4 linked regions of the Homo sapiens genome follow. The protein of the gene in region 2 purifies or fractionates together with the protein of the main gene of each other region. This does not show direct contact. Each region holds a gene or a part of one and is shown on either strand. Other genes may lie near its edges.

The links.
Region 1: the proteins of CSNK1G1 (region 2) and AMMECR1 purify together in Homo sapiens (co-immunoprecipitation; one study listed by IntAct). This does not show direct contact.
Region 3: the proteins of CSNK1G1 (region 2) and DSG2 purify together in Homo sapiens (affinity purification with mass spectrometry; one large-scale study listed by BioGRID and IntAct). This does not show direct contact.
Region 4: the proteins of CSNK1G1 (region 2) and GNG12 purify together in Homo sapiens (affinity purification with mass spectrometry; one large-scale study listed by BioGRID and IntAct). This does not show direct contact.

Annotation. Positions count from the first base shown.
Region 1 is NC_000023.11:110,194,985-110,200,914, forward strand, and holds part of AMMECR1 (nuclear protein AMMECR1), read right to left. Parts: intron 3,651-5,930; coding exon 3,536-3,650; 3' UTR 1-3,535.
Region 2 is NC_000015.10:64,201,875-64,207,804, forward strand, and holds part of CSNK1G1 (casein kinase I isoform gamma-1), read right to left. Parts: intron 5,721-5,930; coding exon 5,635-5,720; intron 3,076-5,634; coding exon 2,991-3,075; intron 2,716-2,990; coding exon 2,567-2,715; intron 1,316-2,566; coding exon 1,208-1,315; intron 1-1,207.
Region 3 is NC_000018.10:31,535,409-31,541,338, forward strand, and holds part of DSG2 (desmoglein-2 preproprotein), read left to right. Parts: coding exon 1-4; intron 5-793; coding exon 794-1,021; intron 1,022-3,342; coding exon 3,343-3,570; intron 3,571-5,784; coding exon 5,785-5,906; intron 5,907-5,930.
Region 4 is NC_000001.11:67,702,835-67,708,764, forward strand, and holds part of GNG12 (guanine nucleotide-binding protein G(I)/G(S)/G(O) subunit gamma-12), read right to left. Parts: intron 4,879-5,930; 5' UTR 4,853-4,878; coding exon 4,760-4,852; intron 2,743-4,759; coding exon 2,617-2,742; 3' UTR 1-2,616. UniProt on the Homo sapiens protein: Guanine nucleotide-binding proteins (G proteins) are involved as a modulator or transducer in various transmembrane signaling systems.

The sequences.
Region 1 (5,930 bases), on a different chromosome or scaffold from region 2:
CTGTACAAAAATAAAAAAGTTAACACATTTAATCCTGCAAGGTTTTTGTAAGGACTGGAAGGCAGGCTTTTGAAGCAGCATTTGGGCATGGCTGGGGGCTTCTTTGGTTTGATCTAACACACATAAGAGATGGAACCTATTCCAGATGACAGTTTCAAATTTCCTGCACATTTGAAGACAAGATAAGAGGCCAGTATACAAACTTCCGGTGTGCTGGGCACTGGGACTGTATGTGCTGGACTGAAAATCTTACAACTGCTTTAAGCTTTAAGGGTGAGGGGAAGCAAGCCTTGCACTTCCTCCATCAATTTCACTGACCTCTCGTGTTAGGGGAGACTACAGAGGGTAGTAGCACATTCTCGTGCAGTCAGAAGGCCACTTGAGGGGTGGGGGACAATTTGTTCTTTTAGAATCTGGTACCTGGCTGACCTTGTTTAAGAACAAGAAAACCCTTCCAGAAATGGAAGCCTTTTGCTACATACCAAAGCAAAGTACGTACTATTTCCAAGAGGAAAAATACCCAGTTGCATCTGAAAATGGAAAACTTAAATGGAACGAATTAACATTTAAAAGGGGCTATGTAAACTTTGTGCTACTCAAATGAAGTTCAAGTATTACTTCTGAGCTGTTTAAAGATCACTGAACTCATACAATATTCTGATGATAAGAGTGCAATTCACATTTGTGTTTCTGAACAAATAAATCACAACTGGCTAGAACACAACCTGTGCAATCAGAATCTTCGTCTGAGTTAAAGACATGCTACATATTTCAACATGTTCAAAGTTAATTCATACCACATAATTAACAGCTTTGTATATACGACAAAGGTGAAAGGGTCTAGCATTTGTTTGAAGCACACCATTACAGTTTGTATAACACCCTTTACACTACAAAGTCTTTTAGTCAAAAGCTACTTAGAGACAAAAATGCACTTTGCATTACTTGAATACAAAAGGAGACAAAACTATCCTTTTCCCCCAAGCCATGTTGGGAAATATTGCTGACCTCGTCCTTTGAAGCCTGCAGGATGGTTATTTCTTCAGTTTAACGTTATTACACTGCTAAGAAAATCTGTATAACATCTGCATATATCAAGGATTTTAAAAAATCTGATATGATTTTAGAGTCCGCATGACCAGTCACGTGACCTGCTCAAGATTGATTAGCACCGTTAAATAAACACACATATATGTATGTATGTATGTGTAAGTATATGTACACACACACATCTATGTATGTAATAAATCTTTGCTAAAAAAACTTCTAACCATAAGCTCACCCAGGACGAGGAGCCTGTTGAACCGATGAGATGATGGATAAGATGGATTTCACGATAATATTGGTCTATTTTGTCTCTCTTCAGTTTGCTTGTTTTATTTACCTTTTTTTCCTTTTTTTTGTTTTTTGTTTTGTTTTTTTTTTGTTTGTTTTTTTTTGCAGCAGACAATATCATTCAGCTTGTGCTCAGTTTCCCTATAAGGGTAAGAAAAGTTTCCATCAGGTAGCCACTTGTTTTTATACTGAAAGACTAATCTGCTCCAAAATGCTCCCAAGTAGAAATGACAGGACTCAAAATCCCTTTCTAAAGCCCAACAGCTAACTTTTTCTGACTAATCTCTAGCTTCATTGAAACTGGCTACCAAGATTGCATTTCAGGCTAACAATTGGCTTCTTAGTTAAGGCATCACAACTGAAAATGGTTATTTCAACAATGGATGCTGTGGATGAAGGAATACCAACAAACTTCTAAGAACTCTCATCAAAAACTAAAGCAATTTGCTTTGCCCCAGTGGCAGGCAGAAGGAATTTAGCCCATTATCTCACAAACTAGGAAAGGATTTTTGAATTCTGAACTAGCAGTCTGTCACTTGTCACAGTAACTATATGTATAAGCTGTATCATTTTGATATTCAGTGACTTTTTTGTAGTTTTAGAATATATATTCTGCAGCATACTTTAATTCATCACTTGATATGTTGGCTTCCTATTTGAAAAAATTATATATATTTTTCCAAAGACACACAGACACACACACATAACCATAAAATGAAGGTCATCTTCCTCCAGAATAATCTGTCATTTTTCCTGGGGATATATGTATGGACCTCCTATCGACATCAGTAAGTTATCTTTGTATGCATCATGGGAAGACTATACTTGCAGATGAGCTGGGCTCTAACTATAGCATATCTGAATGCCAACTCCATTTTCACAGGTGTGACATAACATCTTATCAATGTAGTAAATGTGTTTCTATCAAAAGTATGTAGTGCAGAAAGAAATTCAAGCTATTTTATAGTATCTCTAAAACTCTAATATTGTCCCCATGACAAACATATCTGAAATCATGGCAAATATGAACTTTTGTTTTACTAAATTATCTTTACCATATCTTTAGATGGTAGCTAAAATGGATTCTAGCCAATCATGACTTATTGAAACCTAGAGCTAACAAATTTAAATTAATATAAAATAGACAAATGTCTCTTATTGGTTATTTGCTCAAAATAATTTTTTTTCAGCTTAAAAAAATACTTAAGAGTAAGGAATTTGTCTAATCTTCTGTTTCACATATAGAAACAATAAAGTTTTACAAGAATATTTTTCTAAATTGCCTTTTTTCTAACCCCTCTTAATTCCACTTAATTATATTCTTCTCAAAGGCACTAAATTCTGTATCTGCTCTCTTCCTAATATTTGCTGCTCATAAAATGTTTCCTGTAGCCTTTTTGAAAGGTAGTTTGTACCTTCTCCAAACAGTGTTTTAGTTTGCAAATTGGTTCTATAAAGTGGTGAGGCAGTCTCTTCTATGATAACCAGCACAATAGGGATAAATGATTTCTCTCTCTCTGTGACAAGCCCTATCACGGACCTTTGAATGCTCACTACTAGAACTAAAGTTCATGTATTTTCACCATGGGAAAAACATATACTTAAGGAGTGAAGACCCAACTACTAGGCTGTCATAGCAAAGTGAATTTCAGACAAAAATCAAGAGTAATATACAAATACCTGAATTTGATATGAATTAATCCCAAACTCAGGTATCAAAAAACAACTATCTTACTGAGGAAAACTAAAGACGAACCTAAGTAAAATCCCTAAAAACTGCACACTTTCTTCCATCCACAGTCAAAGGAAGGGAGGCAGGGAAGGAAGAAGGAAAACGGGAAGGAAGAAGGAAAACAGGAAGCAAAACGGGAAGAAAGGCAAGGAGGACAGAAAAACAGAAACCTGACTGAGACAGCAAAGCAAAATTCTACATAATATTATAAGGAAAAAAAAACCCAAAATTATATATGCTGCAAAAAAAAAATCAACGATCTAAAATAATAAAACAGGATCTTAACAAATGCCATTTTTCTACCCGTTACCATGATGATCTTAGTTGACGATGTCGAAGCTTCACCATGGCAACGGAAACTATCATCATAAAATGGTACAGTAAAAGAGATAGCTAGACCAAGAAGGTGTAGGGTCTCCTGGGAAGAGGTCTGCAGAGAGGCCCAGTGACTGGTTGTGCGGCTCAGTGTCAGGAATAATGGTTGTATGGCGGAAGGGGATGCCCAATGCCATTTTGGAAATGATGATGCTGGCGATGAGCAAGGTATTCAGCATAGCTCAGGGTCATCTTTTCACTACGATACCTGAAAGAAAGTCAGGGAAGAGAAAAGTTAACATTGAGAAGTAGGTGACATGCCATTGTCACTGCTAGGAAGGACCTTAAAGATAATTTTATAGATCAGGAAACGGGGTCCCAGAGAGAAGCAGTGACTGCCCAAGGTCACAGAGATAGTAAGTAGCAAAGCTAAGATCAGAACTTGGAAATCAAAAGTCTGAGTCCAGTGCTCTTTGCACTCTACTACTCCTTGTTTAAATTGTTCTTTTAAAAATTTTATTGTCCCCTCAGCCCCAGTTTTCTAACAGGAGTATGCATCTCATTCGATTCAGTTGATTATTTTTCTTCAGAAATCTTCCACCTCTCCCTCTTTTACTGTTCCTTTCTCTGTCCACACATCTACTTAGGTCTTACCATTAAGTAACAACAACAAAAACAACTTTTCTTAATTCTGGTATCCTGAACTCTCACTTTTCCCCATGTCTGGCTTTCTTTTCATTGCCACATTTCTCAAATAGTTGTGTGTATTTTCTGCCTTCAATCCCCATCTCACACTACTACTCAGCTCAGTGCTCCTTGGCTTCTGCTGCCACCCTTCCATGGAAATAGCCATCAGAAGGCTTCCCCTGACTCAGCTTGATCTTTCCATTTGCCCATCATGCCCTTAAGCTCTCTGGTGCTAAGGATTCTATACCTCCACATGCCCCTGGTTCTCCCCTGCCTCTCAGATTGCTCCTTGTCTCTGAATGCTCCTATCCCTGCCTTGTAGAATTTTGTTATGTTTCTGTATTCAGTTATTTTGACTCTATACTGTCCCCCCACAGTGAACCCTATCCTTACAATTTCAATCATATCTAGCCATGAGCTCATACATTTTCATTGACCTACTAGATATTTCTATATAGATATCCTAAGAAGCACCTCAAATCCAAAATCGATGCATAAACTTAACACACTCCTCTTGTGGTCCCTACTTTGATTAAAGGGATTACCTTGGTCCCTTTTATCTAGATTAACGCCTTGACTTTCTTCTTTATTTCTAAATGATGACCCAGTCCTTTCATTTCTTCCACATTATTTTCATATCGATCCCAACCTTTCTTCCCATCTCACTGCCACAGCTCTAGTTAAGGCCCCTGTTGCACCTCTTTTGGACTGCTGCCACAGATTCTTAGATAATACCAACGCTTCCTGGCTCATTTTCCTGTTTCCAATTCCATTCTTATACCTCCCCAAGCCCATCTGATTAAAATCCTTCAATAGCTACCAATTGCCTATAGAACCAGGTCCAAACTAATTACTCTGGAACTCAGGACCCTCAATGGTCTGCCCAACCTACCTTCTGGGCCATATTTTCCTCTAATGATCAGCTTCTCTATTACACTAAAAGACCAGCCCAATCAGACTATTTCATATTCTCAGAACTTGCTTTGTACTTCACCACCCTTGACTCACAAGGTCTTCCTTAAGGGAATCACTTTCCTCCTGTCAAAAAAAAATCCCTTTTTACCTGTCAAATATTCTATCCATTCTTCAAACCCAGCCCCCAGCTGACCTCTTTGAAACTATCTGTTATCCCCCTCCCACCCTCTTAGAATTCCTCTTTCCCTACTTTATGGGAATGGATCTCATATTATCCATCATATTCTGCCTTAGATTAATAATTTTGTCCATGCCCCTTCTATTCTCCTCCACTGTGAACTCAGGGAGAGCAGAGATGGAGGTATTTCTGAATTTGTAACTCCTCAGAGCTGAGAATAGGCCATTTTTAGACTATAAGCATTCAATGTAGTTTTATGGAATTGAAATAAATGGAACCAGCAGCCCATTTTCCTAAAATGTACGGTATTTTCCTTTTTAAATAAGCATCCCTATTTTTTCATGCTGAAATTTATTTAGCATTTGAGTTTAGCTCAATTGTGTTTTTCAGCAAGCTAACAAGTTTTCTTGGTAGACTTCTATCACTGCCAAAATTCTGAGATTAAATTCGAATTTGAGGACTGTTTATCAGAATCCTGGGGTTCTGCTCAGTAATGTCAAAAGCTAGCCAATTGCTAATTCAAGTACTTTCTCCAATAAAGTAGTCTAAAATCTCCAAGGGCTTGCTCGTACAAAAGCCAGAGTAATCACACAGAGCTAAAGATGGGAAAGATAGGCTCATACATCACACAGGCTTTACTACGAAGCAGAGTTCCATTGTATCCACCCTCAGTATGACCCTGCCATTCATTTCCACTCTGTTTCAGAAAAAAGAAGTGTAGTTAGAGAGACCAAAGAAATCAAAGGGTTATAGGCATACACATCAAAA
Region 2 (5,930 bases):
TGATATGTGATAATTATTTTAAAAATATGTAATCTGTTTATTATGCTTTGCTTATTTACCTACTGTGGTCTCTGTTTTTCTCTTAGCAATATATTTAATATAAAGATAAAAATCCTATGTCATATTTACTTCCCAAATACATAAGCCCTTTTTAAAAATGTCAAACTTGTTGATTTTTTGGTGTGTGTTTGCCTTATCTGTCTTTAGGCTGAGAGATGTCCCTCACTGAGACCACTAGTTTTCCAAACAACGAACAATGAAGGACAGATGACATCGCCTAAGCTGAGTCTTCACTGCAGGTCCATCTCAAATCTTGACCAGCTCTATAATTTGCCCGGGTAGAAGAACAAGGGGTGGTGTGGAGGTTCCATTTCATGCCCAAGTCAGTTGGAAGTCCAAAGTACCTACCATTCTTAACCAGCAAGGAAAAACCAGAACTGGCAAGAGCTCTAGACCAGACTACAGATGAGACCCAAAGTGGGCTACCTGGTACATCCTGTCTGTGCGACAGGTCTTTTTTTTTTTAAACTGCTCCTTGGCGAGTAGGGCTACTCCACAGGCACTGTGCCCAGAGTAGCCTCCAACAGGTCTTTTGGTCCTATGGTAGATGCCTCTGATCCTAACTTATAGCTAGTTCCCCCCAACAGCCAACAGACTCTGACAGGCCCACACACTTTTTTTTTTTTTTTTTTAAGACAGGGTCTCACTCTATCACTCAGGCTGGAGTGCAAATGCGGAAGCAATCTTGGCTCTCTGCTGCCTTGACTTCCCGGGCTCAGGTGATTCTCCCACCTCAGCCTCCAAAGTAGCTGGGACTATAGGCACGTGCCACCATGCCCAACTAATTTTTTGTATTTTATGTAGAGACAGGGTTTCACCATCTTGCCCAGGCTGGTCTTGAACTCCTGGCTCAAGTGATCTACCTGCCTTGGCCTCCCAAAGTGCTTGGATTACAGGCATGAGCCACTGCACTTGGCCAGGCTGACTCTTTAGACTGGATGCTTCATATAGGGCACCTGGCCACATCTCAGTGCAACTATACATGCCCTGAGGGTTGCTTGAAAGTCATACCACACCTGTAAGAAATGGCAAGCATTTGATCTTTATTTTCAGTACATACACTAAAGCGGAGAAGCTGAAGAATTTGGGTTTTAATATTAGCCAAGAAGAAGGGTAGTGTCTGAAAGAATGGAGGATCAACACATACCTGATTTCGAAGAGGCTGCTGTTGTGATGGCCGATCCCTATGTGTGTGGCTTTCTCGAGTTATTGCAGATGCACCAGAATCTACGTGAACTGACCCTACTGGAGTAGGCTAGAAAAATGAAACAAAAAGTCAAATGGGGGAAACAGGTCCAACTTGATGCATATGCAAAGGACAGAATGATTCTAATTCTAATAGAGTAGTAGTAATTATTTTCAGCTACCAAGAGCACTTTCAAGTTGTCTTGTCTTCTCAGTTTGCTCATCTGCAAAAGGGAGGCAGCCTGGTCCTTAATAGTTCATTGGAGAGTAGCTTACCTTCGAAAACAAAAAACCAGGGCCGGGCGCGGTGGCTCGTGCCTGTAATCTCAGCACTTTGGGAGGCCGAGGTGAGTGGATCACCTGAGGTCAGGAGTTCGAGACCAGACTGAGCAACATGGAGAAATCCCATCTCTACTAAAAATACAAAATTAGTCAGGTGTGGCAGCGCGTGCCTGTGATCCCAGCTACTCGGGATGCTGAGGCAGGAGAATCGCTTGAACCTGGGAGGCGGAGGTTGCGGTGAGCTGAGTTCACACCATTGCACTCCAGCCTGGGCAACAAGAGTGAAACTCCGTAAAAAAAAAAAAAAAAAAAAAAAAAATTTCCTCCACTGATATCTGTTTGGCCCTGTGAACCCCTGACCAGAACAACAAATTCAAAAGCTTCCTATGATGCTGGGTTCCACTGCTACAAAGGTCAAGTACATTAACAGCGTATGTGGCATCAACTTCTGAATCATGGGGCCAGGTGTGGTGGCTCACGCCTGTAATCCCAGCACTTTCGGAGGCCAAGGAGGGCAGATCACCTCAGGTCAGGAGTTTGAGATCAGCCTGGCCAACATGGCAAAACCCCGTCTCTGCTAAAAATATAAAAATTAGCCGGGCGTGGTGGTGTGTGCCTACAATCCTAGCTACTTGGGAGGCTGAGGCAGGAGAATCGCTTGAACTCAGGAGGCGGAGGTTGCAGTGAGCCGAGATTGGCGCCATTGCACTCCAGCCTGGGAAAACAAACAAACAAACAAACAAACTTCTGAATCATTCAAATGAAACTTCTCCTAAAAACTGGGCTTAAATTCTGTTATCTTAGGACACACAAGTTATTATCTTCCTATATTACTAGGAAAAAATACTTCCTACTTCTGAACTAGTAAGAGCAACCTATGGCAACACCCAGACAAGGCTAGTAAATATACAGTCTACGATCAAAGGAATATTTTTACCAAAGATTCAAGCAGAAAGACTGGCAAGTAAAGGCATGAGGCAGTGCTGGTTGGAGAAAGGAGGTAATGAGGTTAAAAAAAAAAAAAAAAAAGGATACTTACAATAGGTCTCCCAACCCAATCATAGGCATAGTCAAAGGTGTAGCCTTTCTTTTCAAAGAGGTCTGTGAAGAGGGTCCGTAAATACTCATAATCAGGTTTTTCAAAGAAGTCCAGTCGCCTGACATATCGAAGGTAGGTTGCCATCTCCTCTGTTAGGAAAGAGATGAAAGGCCCTGCTCATTAGCTGAATGCTTTCCATAGCAGTTGTGGGGAAGCATTGGGCCACAAAGGGGTTATTTATACAGACAATTTGACACTGATGTTTTCTTTACTGACAAAATAAAAGTGATAAAACCTACTTTGGTCTGTATCACAAAAGGAAATGTTAATTACCTAAACAGCACCCCTATCTAGAGATACCCAGTCATGGACTCTACCTAGTTTCAAAGCTCAGTCACACTGGAATGTCTTTTTAGCATCCCACCTGGAAAGTTCTCACAGAGAGCTTCAATGGGAGTATTCCTTTTGGTGTCACCAATTTTTTGATATCTCTCTTTTAATGTGTCAGCCTGTAGAGAGTAAAGAGAGAAAGTTACTTTAAAAGAGGGCCTAAACATGGGAGATTCAATATGTTTTTGGACACAATGGTTGTTTCACTCAAATTCGCAGTATTTGTTGGTCTTGATTTTTTTTCTAACACTAACAAATAAGAAATGTAGTAGAAATTATATATTTAGATATATACAAACATCTGCTGTGTTCTGGAAAATTTTACTTGTGAAAATATTTAGTTGTCTCAGATAAACACCATCAAATATAATGGATGAGTGGCTAGGATAAGAAAATAACAATATTATGTGGCCAATATTTTCAAAATTGCAGAAGCTTAGTAATATCCCATGGCCACCATAATTCAATATGATTCAGCATTCTCTCTTAGATCAGCTCTAAAAGTACTGCTAATCCAGGTGGGGGAAACAGATAAGTAATTCTACTACACATATATTGAGACTTTGAACAGAAAAAAAACAATAACTGAAAAATGTCTTTCAACAATGTGCTTCCAGAGGGAAAAAAGTTGTCTATGGTACAGCCATGGCTAACAGGTTTGGTGTATGTCAGTAACTCAAAAGCAGCCCAAGTCTGGTATGCTCAGAGCTATAGCCAGAGGGCTTCTGAACCCTGGATCAACAGTGGGCTCCTAGGGAATTCTTGTCAGGCTTTACCTAGCTTGCTGCACTCAGACTTAAGCAATAGTGTTCTGAAGTAAATAGGAGAAATTTTAGATCTACAACTACCACTAAAATGATTTATGGACAACGAGAGAGTTTCAAGCAATTAATAATACACTAATGCATTGTGTGGCTGTATGATGACCAAGTTTGACATGAAACTCTATTTGAAAGCTATAAAAATCAATGAGAAGATGTATATGACAGGAGAGGAATTTAAGAGTGAAGAAATAAAATCTCAAAGGGAATGGGTGGAAGTCTTACGTTTTAGGACAATAGTCTAGAAAGCCTACAGCAAAATGAACCATCCTGCCTTTCTGGAAGAGGGGGTGTAGGAGTACCCCAAACTACTGATTAAGTTTCTTTCCATATTAATATGTTGAAATAAATTACAACCAAAAAATATGTCTTGGGCCAGGCGCGATGGCTCATGCCTGTAATCCTAGCACTCTGGGAGACCTAGATGGGTGATCACTTGAGGTCAGGAGCTCGAGACCAGCCTGACCAACATGGTGAAACCCCGTCTCTACTAAAAATACAAAAAATTGGCTGGGTGCAGTGGCTCACGCCTGTAATCCCAGCACTTTGGGAGGCCGAGGCAGGCGGATCACAAGGTCAGGAGTTTGAGACCAGTCTGGCCAATATGGTGAAACCCCGTCTCTACTAAAAATACAAAAATTAGCCGGGTGTGGTGGCGTGTGCCTGTAGTCCCAGCTACTCAGGAGGCTGAGGCAGGAGAATTGCTTGAACCCAGGAGGCGGAGGTTGCAGTGAGCCGAGATTGCACCACTGCACTCCAGCCTGGGCAACAAAGCGAGAGTCCGTCTCAAAACAAAAACCAAAAAATTAGCTGGGCGTGGTGGCATGCACCTGTAATCCCAGCTATTCAAGAGGCTGAGGTAGGAGAACCGCTGGAACCTGGGAGGTGGAGGTTGCAGCGAGCCCAGCCTGGGAAACAGAGTGAAACTCTGTCTCAAAAAAAAAAAAAAAAAAAAAAAAAAAAAAAGTCTCACAAGATACTAATGGGACTTACAATGGGTTAGAAGCTCACCATTTCCTAGCCAAACAGCCAAAGGCACAGAGTAATGATAATGCTCATAATTATAATAGTAAACTGACATGTAACCACTGTACTGACACCTACCTAAGGAAGGCTATTTAAACTCTACACATTTTGCAATGAATAGATATTGTCTGAATAGGCATTTATTCAATAATACACTTGAAAAGCAATCTTAAACCTGGATTTTCATTTTAGTTCAGGTGAGTTCTTAGCCTACATAGGATAAACAAATATTTTCCAAGTTTTCCTGAGGAGTACACCCTGCTGGCCTTTCTGGTAAAATGTGTAGCAGCTGTTGTCAACAATTTGTTCCAGAAATTCCCTTACATACTGGGAACACTCCTCCTGCTACATAATGGTAGTGGAGGAGGAATACCAACACAGAGAGAAAAGCAGCACTGTCAAGCCTGGGAGGAAATGAGGGAAAAGATCATGGAAAATCCAAGAACAAGGAAAAATTAAGAAACGGAAGACAAATGTGAACAAAACAGTTTCCAAAGCCCAGGAGAGCATTTATAATGTAGACTAATGTAATTAGTCCCTGCTTCTTATCTCCAGAGCCAATTAGCCAATAATCCTTTTTGTGTGTTGTTTTAAAAAAATATTTATTTGTTTATGTTTAAATAGAGATGGGGTCTCACTATGTTGCTGATCTCAAACTCCTGGACTCAAGCAATCCTCCCACCTCAGCCTCCCAAAGTGCTGGGATTACAGGCATGAGCCACCGCATCTGGCCAGCCCCCTACACATTTCTTAAAAACATGAAGCCAGAGGCTCCTTCATTAACAACTGAGCATTGAAACAAAGCCCTCCACTGAACACTTTCAAGGATACCTTGAGTCCTTGCCAGGGGAGGCTGCCTCGAAGGAAATACATGAACATATGGCCTAGGGCTTCCAAATCATCTCTCCGGCTTTGCTCTAAAAGGGAAGACAGATCACACATTATGTTTGCAGTTATTAAAGCAGAAAGAGGTTCAAAACCAAGTAATCCCTTCAGAAACCCTTCGGCTCTGGAAAGGCTCTGCTTACTAATTACTTGTATATTTAAACCAAGGATAGTATTTTAGATCAAAACCCTAAACCGATGTGTACTTCCTTTGCCTAGATCTGTTGATGGTAAGTAAATAT
Region 3 (5,930 bases), on a different chromosome or scaffold from region 2:
GAAGGTAAGTTATTAAATAGATCTTTTTCTTGATTATATGTATTTAGATTTTTATTTTCCAACATCAGAAACCATTGATTTGATTGTGTATAAAAACCTAATCTCGGCCGGGAGCAGTGGCTCATGCCTGTAATCCCAGCACTTTGGGAGGCCAAGGCAGGTGGATCACGAGGTCAAGAGATCGAGACCATTCTGGCCAACATGGTGAAACCCCGTCTCTACTAAAAATACAAAAATTAGCTGGGCATGGTGGCATGCATCTGTAGTCCCAGCTACTCAAGAGACTGAGGCAGGAGAATTGCTTGAACCCAGGAGGTAGAGGAGCGGAGATCGCGCCAGACAAAGGGAGACTCCAACTCAAAAAAAAAAAAACAAAAACAAAAACCTAATCTCACCCCAGCACAGTTGCTTGTGTCTGTAGTCCCAGCTACTCAGGCAACTGAGATGGTTGGAACACTTGAGCCCAGGAGTTTGAGACCAGCCTGGACAAAAAAGCAAGACACCATCTTCAAAAAAAAATTGAGGGGTAGATAAAATTTAAAAATAGATGTCTAAAAAAATTTTTTAGTAAGATGAAATAAGCACCTAATTTCTCCAGTAGATAAATCTCACATTTCTACTTGGTAAGTGGATTAAAAGATATTACTTGGTCCAAATTTGAAACATATCTAGGATAGAAAATGTCCTAAGTGGTTAGTACCTTCTCCACTCCAAATTGGCAAGGGAATTCAAACTATGTCTGTTGTCAGCAATAGGAACAGAATGTACATACTTTTTCTCTCTTATTTTTAAGATTATCCTAGAAAAACCATCACTGGCACAGTCCTTATCAATGTTGAAGACATCAACGACAACTGTCCCACACTGATAGAGCCTGTGCAGACAATCTGTCACGATGCAGAGTATGTGAATGTTACTGCAGAGGACCTGGATGGACACCCAAACAGTGGCCCTTTCAGTTTCTCCGTCATTGACAAACCACCTGGCATGGCAGAAAAATGGAAAATAGCACGCCAAGAAAGTAAGCAAAATCACTGGACTACATAGAAATCTAAATATTAAGCATGATATCTAAAATATTTGTAAGTTGTATTTCTTCTCATAAATTATATTTCCAATATAGTTTTTTAAAGGAGTTTATGAAATGAGGTCCTGAACCTACTGACATATAGTATCTTTTATATGCTTATGGAGAGAAGAAAAATAATCTAAAATGTCTTGAAGGTAGCTGGGTATTCCCTAAATAGCCCTTGAAGTAGTTTTGTCTGGTAAGGTGAGGAGTACCAAGCCTTTGTCAGCACCACAATCGTAGTAGTTTGCCTTCTAAAAATCTTGTAGTAACAGTAATTCCATTTAAAACAACATTTATTGAGCACTTGCTATGTGCTAGGCATTCTGCTAGCCCACCCTATGTATTACCATATTTAATCCTTCCTTCAACATTATTCCCTGATTAAAGCTGAGGATACCTTGGTTTAACTGGGGGTAAGTAAAGCTCAAACCTAGAACATGATAGAAACAACATAACAGGGGAGTTATCTGATTCCCCCCTTCCCCATGTCAGTGGACATGTCCATATGTCCACATCCAGGACATCTAGACACATGGACCATATGATGTGTTGATGTGAGTTTTCAGATGTCCTTCAGGGTGGTTCTGAATGCAGAAAAGTCTATCCAGAAAACTATTTTGTTTTAAACAACTAGGGTTCATTTCAGTAAAATTTCAAAGACAATAGTCAGTTTTTTTTTTAATTTACAGCTTTATTGTGTTAAGTCTAGCAAATGTTTGAAATCATTTTAAGAGGGTTTGAATAATGTTTAGTCCAATTAACAAATTAAACACCATCAATATTTCAAACTGTATTTACAGATTTAATATATTTAGTTTCCTTATATATTTCAGTGATCTGAATTAACAAAACCTCCCAGCCAGGTGCGGTGGCTCACGCCTGTAATCCCAGCACTTTGGGAGGCCAAGGCAGGCGGATCATGAGGTCAGGAGATCGAGACCATCCTGGCTAACACGGTGAAACCCCGTCTCTACTAAAAATACAAAAAATTAGCCGGGCGTGGTGGCAGGCACCTGTAGTCCCAGCTACTCGGGAGGCTGAGGCAGGAGAATGGCATGAACCCAGAAGGCAGAGCTTGCAGTGAGCCGAGATTGTGCCACTGCACTCCAGCCTGGGTGACAGAGCAAGACTCTGTCTCAAAAAAAAAACTCCCTATGATCCTTATACTCTAAAATTCTAATAAATTTAACTTACAAATACACTGAGTTGTATATTACAGAATATTATCAATAACAAGTTGAAGCCGGGCATGGTAGCTCATGCCTTAATCCTAGCACTTTGGGAGGGTGAGGCGGGTGGATCACTTGAGGTCAGGAGTTTGAGACCAGCCTGGCCAACATGGTGAAACTCCATCTCTACTATAAATACAAAAATTAGCTGGGCATGGTGGTGGGCACCTGTAATCCCAGCTACTCAGGAGGCTGAGGCAGGTGAACCTGGGAGGCAGAGGTTGCAGTGAGCCAAGATGGCAGCACAGCACTCCAGCCTGGGCAACAGAACGAGACTCCATTTCAAAAAATAAGAAGAAGAAGAAGAAGTGTAAGAGTGCTAATGTTCCTTGATCTTAGAAGGTGCATGCTGAAGAATGTCGTGCTATCTGTAACTTACCTTGAAATAGTTAAGAAACTTTAAAAAAAAGAAAAAGTGGGTATATAGAGGGCAAAGAAAGCATTGTTGCAAAATGTAAACAGTTAGTAAGGGTTTGTTAATATTCACTAAAATATTCTTTCAACTTTTCTGTAGGTTTGAATTTTTTTTCCATTTTGAATGTATATAGTGTTGAGAACAAAAAAAGAAGGGACTAGAGAAAACAAGATCAGCCCATCATTGAAAATGATTAACGCTGAGGATGGGTACCATGGGGGTTATGCTCTTCTCTTTATTACTATGTTTGAAAAATTGCCTTAATGAAGTTTTTTTTTAAAGAAATGGTAAAATAAAGGTCATTCAGTAGAAATGTTAACTCACCACTTGTTTGTCACTGTATTCCCAGTGTATAGAACAGTTCCTAGCTTTCCTAGACCCACACACATTGGTTACAGCTAATCATCATGAAAGTAGGTGTCCAGGTCTGAACCTTTGCTATTTAAACTGCATATTCAGGGCCTATAGACAAATTTTAATGAGCACACTTCAATAAGTGAAGGAAGAACAAAGTACCTAATTGGAGTTAAATACAATCAGCAATGAAAGAACATTTGTGGAATTTAATGTTGCCTCATCCTTGGTAATCGTTCGTTTTTATTTCCTTCTGCCTCCCAACCTTGTAGGTACCAGTGTGCTGCTGCAACAAAGTGAGAAAAAGCTTGGGAGAAGTGAAATTCAGTTCCTGATTTCAGACAATCAGGGTTTTAGTTGTCCTGAAAAGCAGGTCCTTACACTCACAGTTTGTGAGTGTCTGCATGGCAGCGGCTGCAGGGAAGCACAGCATGACTCCTATGTGGGCCTGGGACCCGCAGCAATTGCGCTCATGATTTTGGCCTTTCTGCTCCTGCTATGTAAGTCTTTAAAAGCCACTCTGTTGTGCTTTTGGGAATCTGAGTGCACTCCTGGAGATGTGTTACTATGGTAGTCATTGATTTCTTCACAGTTATTCTTTAACCACACTAGAGCACTTTGAGGGTGAATAGGGAAACAACTGATGATTGGCAAATCACCAAAGCATAATATAAGACTCTTCAGAATTTTGTTTTATAAATGTATATCCTTTTCTGGTTTCAGTAACTTAGGAACTATTGGCATAAACTTCACTGGTATTCCCATTTTGATGAGCTCTGTGAGGGCAGCATGCTGTCTGTTCTCTTCACTGCTGTATTCCCAGTGTGTGGAACAGAGCCTTGCATGTAGTAAGCGCTCAAAAAAGATGTGTTGCATGACTTTGGGTTATGGGCACAAGGTTTTTTACAAACCCAGTTTATTCCAATCAATCCTGCTTTGTACATTCAACTTATCAGAGCTCCGCCTCCCTGATATTCCCCGCTTGCCTTGTTTCTTCGTCAGCACCAAAAGTAGGCAGACCCTCTGAGCACTTCCTGTCCTTCCTGACCGTAAGATGTTCTCAACCAGTCCTGCCTGCCCTACCCACGCTCCAAAGACCTCGGGTTTCCTTTTATAAAAGAACAAGGGACTGCATCCTGAGGTCACATGAAATATCACTCTACTTGACCACTGAATATGGACAGAGGGCCGCCTCCAAGGCAGCCTAGGCTAGTGCAGTGACAGAGGAGAGGTCTGTTAGACAAGGGGTCCCCAACCCCCAGGCTACAGACCAGCACCTGTCCATGGCCTGTTAGGAACCAGGCCGCACAGCAGGAGGTGAGTGGTGGAAGAGTGAGTGAAGCTTCATCTGTATTTACAGCCACTCCCCATCACTCGTGTTACCACCTGAGCTCTACCTCCTGTTAGACCAGTGCTGGCATTCGATTCTTATAGGAGCTCAAACTCTATCGTGAACTACTCATGCCAAGAGATCCAGGTTGCGTGCTCCTTATGAGAATCTAATGCCTGATGACCTGTCACTGTCTCCCATCACCCCCAGATGGGACCATCTAGTTGCAGAAAAATAAGTTCAGGGCTCCCACTGATTCTACATTATGGTGAGTTGTATAATTATTTCATTATATATTACAATGTAATAATAATAGAAATAAAGTACACAATAAATGTAATGCACTTGAGTCATCCCAAAACCAACCCCCCTACCCCTAACTTCCCTGTGGAAAAACTGTCTTCCATGAAACCAGTCCCTGGTGTCAAAAAGGTTGGGGACTGCTGTATTAGAGCCATTGGTAGATGTGCAATTGAAAGCACAGCACTCAACAGTCTGCAGTGTACTTTTATACCATCATCTCCATGCTATGGCTACATATACAGATACATAACGGTAAATGACTTGTCTCAGCTTACCAAGTTTGTAGGTAGGTACTGGAGCTGGGACTGTATCTTTTGCTCAGGGATTCCTTGCACTGCTTTCTCATCTCAGATTCCCTGGAGCCTAATGTGGTACTTGGCACATAATAGACACTTGATGAATGTTTGTTAAAATTGTTGAATTGCCACTGGCTGATTTCAGTCTTCTTATTAATCGTAGTAGCTGTAGTTAATGTGCTGTTGACTGTTTGACATAAAAACGAATCTAGGCAGTAGCCAGTTCATCATTGGAAGCTGCCAAATGGGAGTGGCAGATGGGCATGCAGGTGTGTTTAATTCTTTACTACATTGATCAAGGGGTCAGCCTTGGTCTTTGCTTCCTCCTAGGGGTAAAATAAAATCTAAGAAGAGGGCTCTGAAATTGTTATATGTTTCACTTTATTATTTCTAATTACTGTTTTCAATAGTACATATATTTTTGCAACAGTGATTTTTTTTTAATTGGACCATAGTTTTAAAAAAATTAATCTTTAAGCTGGTTTTGATGATTTGGATACTATCTGAACCTAGTCTTGGTATTCCACTCAGCAGCCACAGACAGCCTCTTTTTGATGAACAAGGCCTTGAATCTGTAAGACTCCCTCATCCTGCCTTCGGGTTTTGGAGTAATTCACCCAAAACAAGCTTGGTAAGGTTGGATCAGGGTGAAGAAAAGAAAAATAGAGCTGTAAATAAGTGAAGACAAGTCCAGGAAGGGACATGCAAATTCCAAAATTGTGCAATATAAATTTAGAAATATATCAAGGTTAACCTTATCTGTGTTCAATTTTGTGTCTGTACAGTGGTACCACTTTTACTGCTGATGTGCCATTGCGGAAAGGGCGCCAAAGGCTTTACCCCCATACCTGGCACCATAGAGATGCTGCATCCTTGGAATAATGAAGGAGCACCACCTGAAGACAAGGTCAGTGGATCAGATGTCAATATG
Region 4 (5,930 bases), on a different chromosome or scaffold from region 2:
ATATATTGAAACAGCTTCATGGAAATGAAGCCAAGAAGTTGCATGTATATACGTGAGAAAGATTATCATTACAGTGGTAGTTGGAAAAAGTAACAAACACTGGGTATTTGTCTATCATTAACATAAACCAACTGTTGCAGACAGTTAAACTGTGGCTTTGTAAGGAGAATAAAGCCTGATAAAAAAAGTGACTTCTGCATATCATATATATGTATACATATATTTTCTCACATAGACGTCTAGTTATAAGTAAATCAACATTTAGCTACAACTTTTCCTCTCTTGGGTCCAGCATCAAAAGATTTGATATTCATGAACATGCCCTACACCTGGTTAGGAAGTTATGTATTTATACTCATAGCCTTTATTGTATCTGACCAGGGTGAATAAAATGAAATCTCCTGGGACCTCAAGTCCATTTCTTACCACTATAAGCATATTAACAGATATATATCAAAACATACTTGTTTACTGTTAGGTAAAAGAGCATGTTTCAGTACTAAATAATAAACTATGCCTGCTACCAATAACATGCACATAATGGTATAATAAAAGTAATTTTTCATGAAAATATTTTGAAAGAAGCTACATTATAAATATTTAAAGAAACGTTAAAAATCAGAGTGAAAATCAGATTAGTGTTCTGAAACTGAGTAGAAAAATAGACTTATAAAAAAAAGAATGTCTCATTAAGTGAAGCATTAAATGTAAAGTTGTCTTTTTAGTGTAAATTTCAAATCTCACCCTTTGAGAGGTAAAATCTTCCTCTCTCCTAAACAGGTACCTATAATTGATTTGGGAACTGGGCATATCGCAGAACGAAAAAGCAGATGACACAAGGCTAAGGGCAGTGCCGTGATTTTCACATGGCCTTAGAAAAGCGAGGGGCATTCATAAGGCTGAGTAGATAGCAACTTGGAGAAATACTGAATAAATGTGAGCAGTTTGAAAACAGTAATGCATTTGTCCACCCTAAATGAGCTAATACTCAAAGCCCAGACATTAGATTTTAAAAGGGGTTTGCTTTCCAGGACAGATTGTACAAAATTTGGGAAAATCGTTGTAAATAATTACTTCCTGGGGTTGATTCCTTTTTGAGGGGAAGTTTTTAACCTTTCCTTAGTAGTTACTTTTAATGAACTGAAGAAGAATTAAAGCATCAAAGGCCTAGTGTATGATTTGACTCCGAAGTGACCCTCTCTTCTACTTTGATAAAGTCAAGATACCTTATTGGCCATAGGAGATTCCTCCTTTTGGGGCTACCCCCATACCTGGAAATTCCAAGAGTGTGAGGGCTATATTTGGGCCCAGAGGAAAATCAAGGAACCCCATATCCAGCTGCTAAAGCCCTTGGGCCCAAGGAGTGTACCACTGAATCCAAGGCTCTCTTGGGTAGCCTATGTGCCTCTTGGATGGTATGTGAACAAGGTAGGGATGAAACTGCAGATGTCTGAAAAGAGCTTAAGCATCCTGACAGCTTGCATTTTTTTTTTAATTTTTTTTTTCCTCACCGTATTCCACATACCTGTGGCTGGGGAAGGTAATGTTACCTCTGCAAACAGATGCTCTGGTAAGAGAAGAAAGACACAGGGAAGGCAGAGAGAGCAAGACAGAGGGCTCAATCACAAAGCTGGGACAAGGAGAGCAGCTGTTTTTCACACATTCCTGCTCCTCTCTCAGCTGGGCTCATGTTCACTCCGTTTCATTCCAATCATCAGGGTGGAGATTTCAGAGGTGCCTATCCCTAATCCAGTAGAGAACATGAGCCCTGGGAGCACAGCTGCCTGGAGTCCTCCCAAGGGTCTCCTCCCCTTTTCCAGACTCAGCATCATTGAAGCCCTAACGGGTCCTTGTAAATTAATGTTTCATATTATCGAAGGACTGTCAGTTTAGTTTGGTACAGTTTATTGTAGCCTAAGAGGTCCAGCAAGATTTCAAGAGAGGAGAGATGATTGCATTACTTGATTACAATGAATACAATCTTTAGGATACTCTTTACTTTTTGTACAATAACGATATGAAAGGAATTTTTTATTCTACCTATACACAGCTCAAAATAAAGGTATAACTTCTGGAACTGAGAAACTGATGGTATGGAGAGAGGGACGTTTTCATAAGAAAATAGCTTTGATAAGTGTATACACAAAGGCATATATATATACACACAAACACCCCTCTCTCTTATATACTATACAGGCTGGCACACGCCTTATAAAGAATATAATATCAAGGCTTTAGGATTTCAATGAATTTTGGAATTTTAATTTGACAGGTGCTTAGGCCATTTAGGTCCTGACATATCGGAATCCCTTGTATTTCTAAAGTATATAATTATGTTTTTAAAAAGGCCCAGATCAACTTTCCTTAAACAGTAACCCAACATAAAGCCATAGTTACCAAGTGGAAAATAAGATTGTTATTCTGTATTAAATCAGTAAAGGGTATTTTAAGAGAAAGGACAACTTGGAAAATAGAGACTTCAGAGTCCATTATTCCAAGCTGAGAACATTTTAGTTATTAGCAGTGGTTACCAAATAAGCTGAAGGTAAATCTCTTCAAGGAGCTGCTCATAATTTGCGTTGTTGGGAAGAGGCGAGGAGCTGTTTCTCTATTCCACTATAAGATGATGCAAGTTTTTTTATCCTTGAAAGGGTTTTCTGAAGTTGGTATTCCTATCAGCAAAGGGTCACTCCTGGCATGTTCCTCACAGTAGGACATGAGGTCCGCTGATGCCTTCGAAACCTGACATGGAGATAAATCAAACAAACAAGAAAGAAAATATTTTACTTGCACACTTTCAGAGCGTATTTGAATGCTAGGCTATTGAATGGAAGACTGATTTGAACAAGATAATCAGAGTCTCAAAGCATCACTCTCAGATTCTTGTCAGGTATAAAAAGGAAATGGTACCTTTAAAATGGTGCAATTTGGCAGGTAAGGTCTTTCTTAACCAAGCAACTTAACAATGGTCAGACAAACTGGCACCATGTATCCCTTCATGGGAGTGCTGAGGACACACCGCCAGCTAATGAGCTAGCATTCCTGTCCAACATTGAACTGGAGTCCAATCAGCGAACGATCACACCCGAAGTGAGGGTGATTCTGCAAAATAAGTGGCCTGGATTCTTCAAAAATGGACTGTGTGTGAGGTATTCTTATTAGATAATCCTGAACTGCAAATAACTTTCAAGGGTTTAAAGAAGACATTATATATGTTTTGTGTGTATGTGTGTACAGACAGAAGGAGGGAGAGAGACAGTGCAAGCAAGTACATGTGGTCAAATGTTAAAAACTGGTGAATCCTGGTAAACGGTTTATAAATGTTTGTTGTTACAACTCTTCAGCAGGTTTGAAATGTCTCAAAATAAAAAGTTAGGGGCCAGGTGAGAAAAAGCATATGTGAATCAAGGGAAGGTTGTATCTTAAATTCTACCCAGAAAAAAACAGATTGGAATGCAGAACACACTTTAAGAACTGAACGATGGGCTCGGAGCCAAAACTCTGGAGCCAAGTTGTGGAGCTTCAGGATTTACTGTTAGAGATTGGGCTTGCGGAAGTAAAAAGAGAGACGAAACCAGCATGGGAAGAGGCAGTACCTTACTCCCGCATGAATTAAACACGGAAAATATCATGCCCTGTTTCAGAAGTCTGGGAGGGAGATCCTACAGAATAGGATCTCTTTGCCCTAAGCAAAGAGCAATGGGGCAGCTGAGCCCTGTCTAGCACAGCCCAGATAGCCTCATGCTGGGAAGACAGGTGACTATCTCCAGGCCCAGAGGAATGGATCAAGTGATTGCTTCAGTTTCTTTTTTCTTTTCTTTCTTTTTTTTTTTTTTTTGAGATGAAGTTTTGTTCTTGTTGCCCAGGCTGGAGTGCAATGGCGCGATCTTGGTTCACTGCAACCTCTGCCTCCTAGATTCAAGCAATTCTCCTGCCTCAGCCTTCCGAGTAGCTGGGATTATAGGCGTGCGCACGCCACCGTGCCTGGCTAATTTTGTATTTTTAGTAGAGACAGGGGTTTCTCCATGTTGGTCAGGCTGGTCTCGAATTCCCAACCTCAGGTGATCTGCCCGCCTCGGCCTCCCAAAGTGCTGGGATTACAGGCGTGAGCCACCGCGCCTGGCCAACTGCTTCAGTTTCAAGGAAGAACTAGTCATAACATTCCAGGGCACTCACTGCCTAGTTCTCTCTTGGGATTTAGGGGAAAAGACTTCGAAGTCAGGTGATCTAAGAAATGCATTCCAGTTTCTCTATGGGATCTCAACTAAAGCTCGCATTATTACTCTGGGCACAGAAAGTGGTCACTGAGGGCCAAACACATTTAAAAGCTTCATTTCCCTAAAAAGGAAACCTAGACTGCTGACTTCTTACGTGAAGCTGCCTCAGCTGCACTGATAATTCTAGAACACTTAAATTCCAAAGGAATGACTAGGGTGTTTATGAAGTCTACTTGGAACCCCTGTCCCACTTTAGAACACAGGGATCAACGGACTTGACCATGTTCATTCAGGGGAGACAGGTCCTTAGGAAATCCTGTCCAGAGTTTTACAAACAGAGAGGCTAATGCAGACACTTTTGAAGTGAGGCCCATGCTATATAGGAAAATGAAAGTTAGGATTTTGAGACTCTCAGCCTGTTCTGGAAAAATCCTGGAAGCAAGCGGAATGAAATGGTATTATCTTCTCTGACAAGTGGTCCAGCCACAAGGAACAGGGGGAACTGAGCAGAAAGCATATGTTATCCAGTCGGGGCTTCTTACCTTTATTCTTTCAATGGAGGCTTCTAATCTTAACTGCTGCACAGTTCTCCTTGCCTGGGCTATATTGTTGGTGCTTGCTGTTTTGCTGGACATCTTCAATTATTGTTTTTACCTGAAATCTGAGGAGAATTTTTTTTAAAGACAAGTAACAGGCATCTTTAAGTTATTTAAACATTCATAATAATATGTTCTACTTAAAGGGAAATAGATGGATTTTCCTAGTCATCACAGCTTCTTGGAGGCAGTTACTAAAACACCCCTTAGAAATTCGAGTGGTGACCTAGGTATCTAAGTTTGTCATCCATTTGAGCACCTACATAAATCTTTAGTTTGCAGAAACCCAGCACTAGCAGTTTAATCGATGCACCCCAACATATAACACAAAACTAGACTTTTCTAGGATTTCCTAAGAGGAAACAAATACGCAAACACTTGTAGCACTTAGGGGACCTGTGGCAAAAGTGAGCATTTGCTATGGGAGGCATATTACATGTCAGTTTAATATTACTGCTACCTACTTTCACAGAAGGTTTGATTTCATTTCTTTTGGGCTCTTGCCCCCAACTATTAGGCTGATCAAAGACTTGGCAACAGAAAATGAGAAGAGAGCTCCTCTAGAGAACTTTGAATAAAGGGTGCTTATTTTTAGACACTATCATGATGTGGAATCGTTTTGAAAGTGTTAGGCACATAAGGAAGTCTTTATTCATGAAAGAGTGAAAACTTTCAGTGGAGACTCTCCGTGATAGATCCACTGTAAATGTCAGGTGGGATATATGAGTAGCCTACAGTCTGAAATAATTAATAAAACGTTATTATTCCCTCCTTTGACCTCTCCCTGGTCTCATCGTGATGGTCTGGGCACTTGCTAATCCTATTACTCCATCATATGTTCGTGGATTGATTCTCCTCTCTAGCCTGAGCTGTTGGCCTCTAGGCTGCCCTGCTGCCCTCTCTCCTTAGCCACCTGGTGTAAAGCAATGGAAACAGAAACATCCTGGCCCTTGCTTTACAAACTGGTTGTCCAATAGCACATTTCAAGAGGAAGGCAGGCTGGGGGAAAAGTGTTGCCTGGTGCCCTGACCTATATGGCTAAGTTCATTCTCATCAGGGTGGCAACTGAAGGAAAACGCAGGGCTGGCAGGCCTGGTAGCAGTGTGGCAGTTTTATG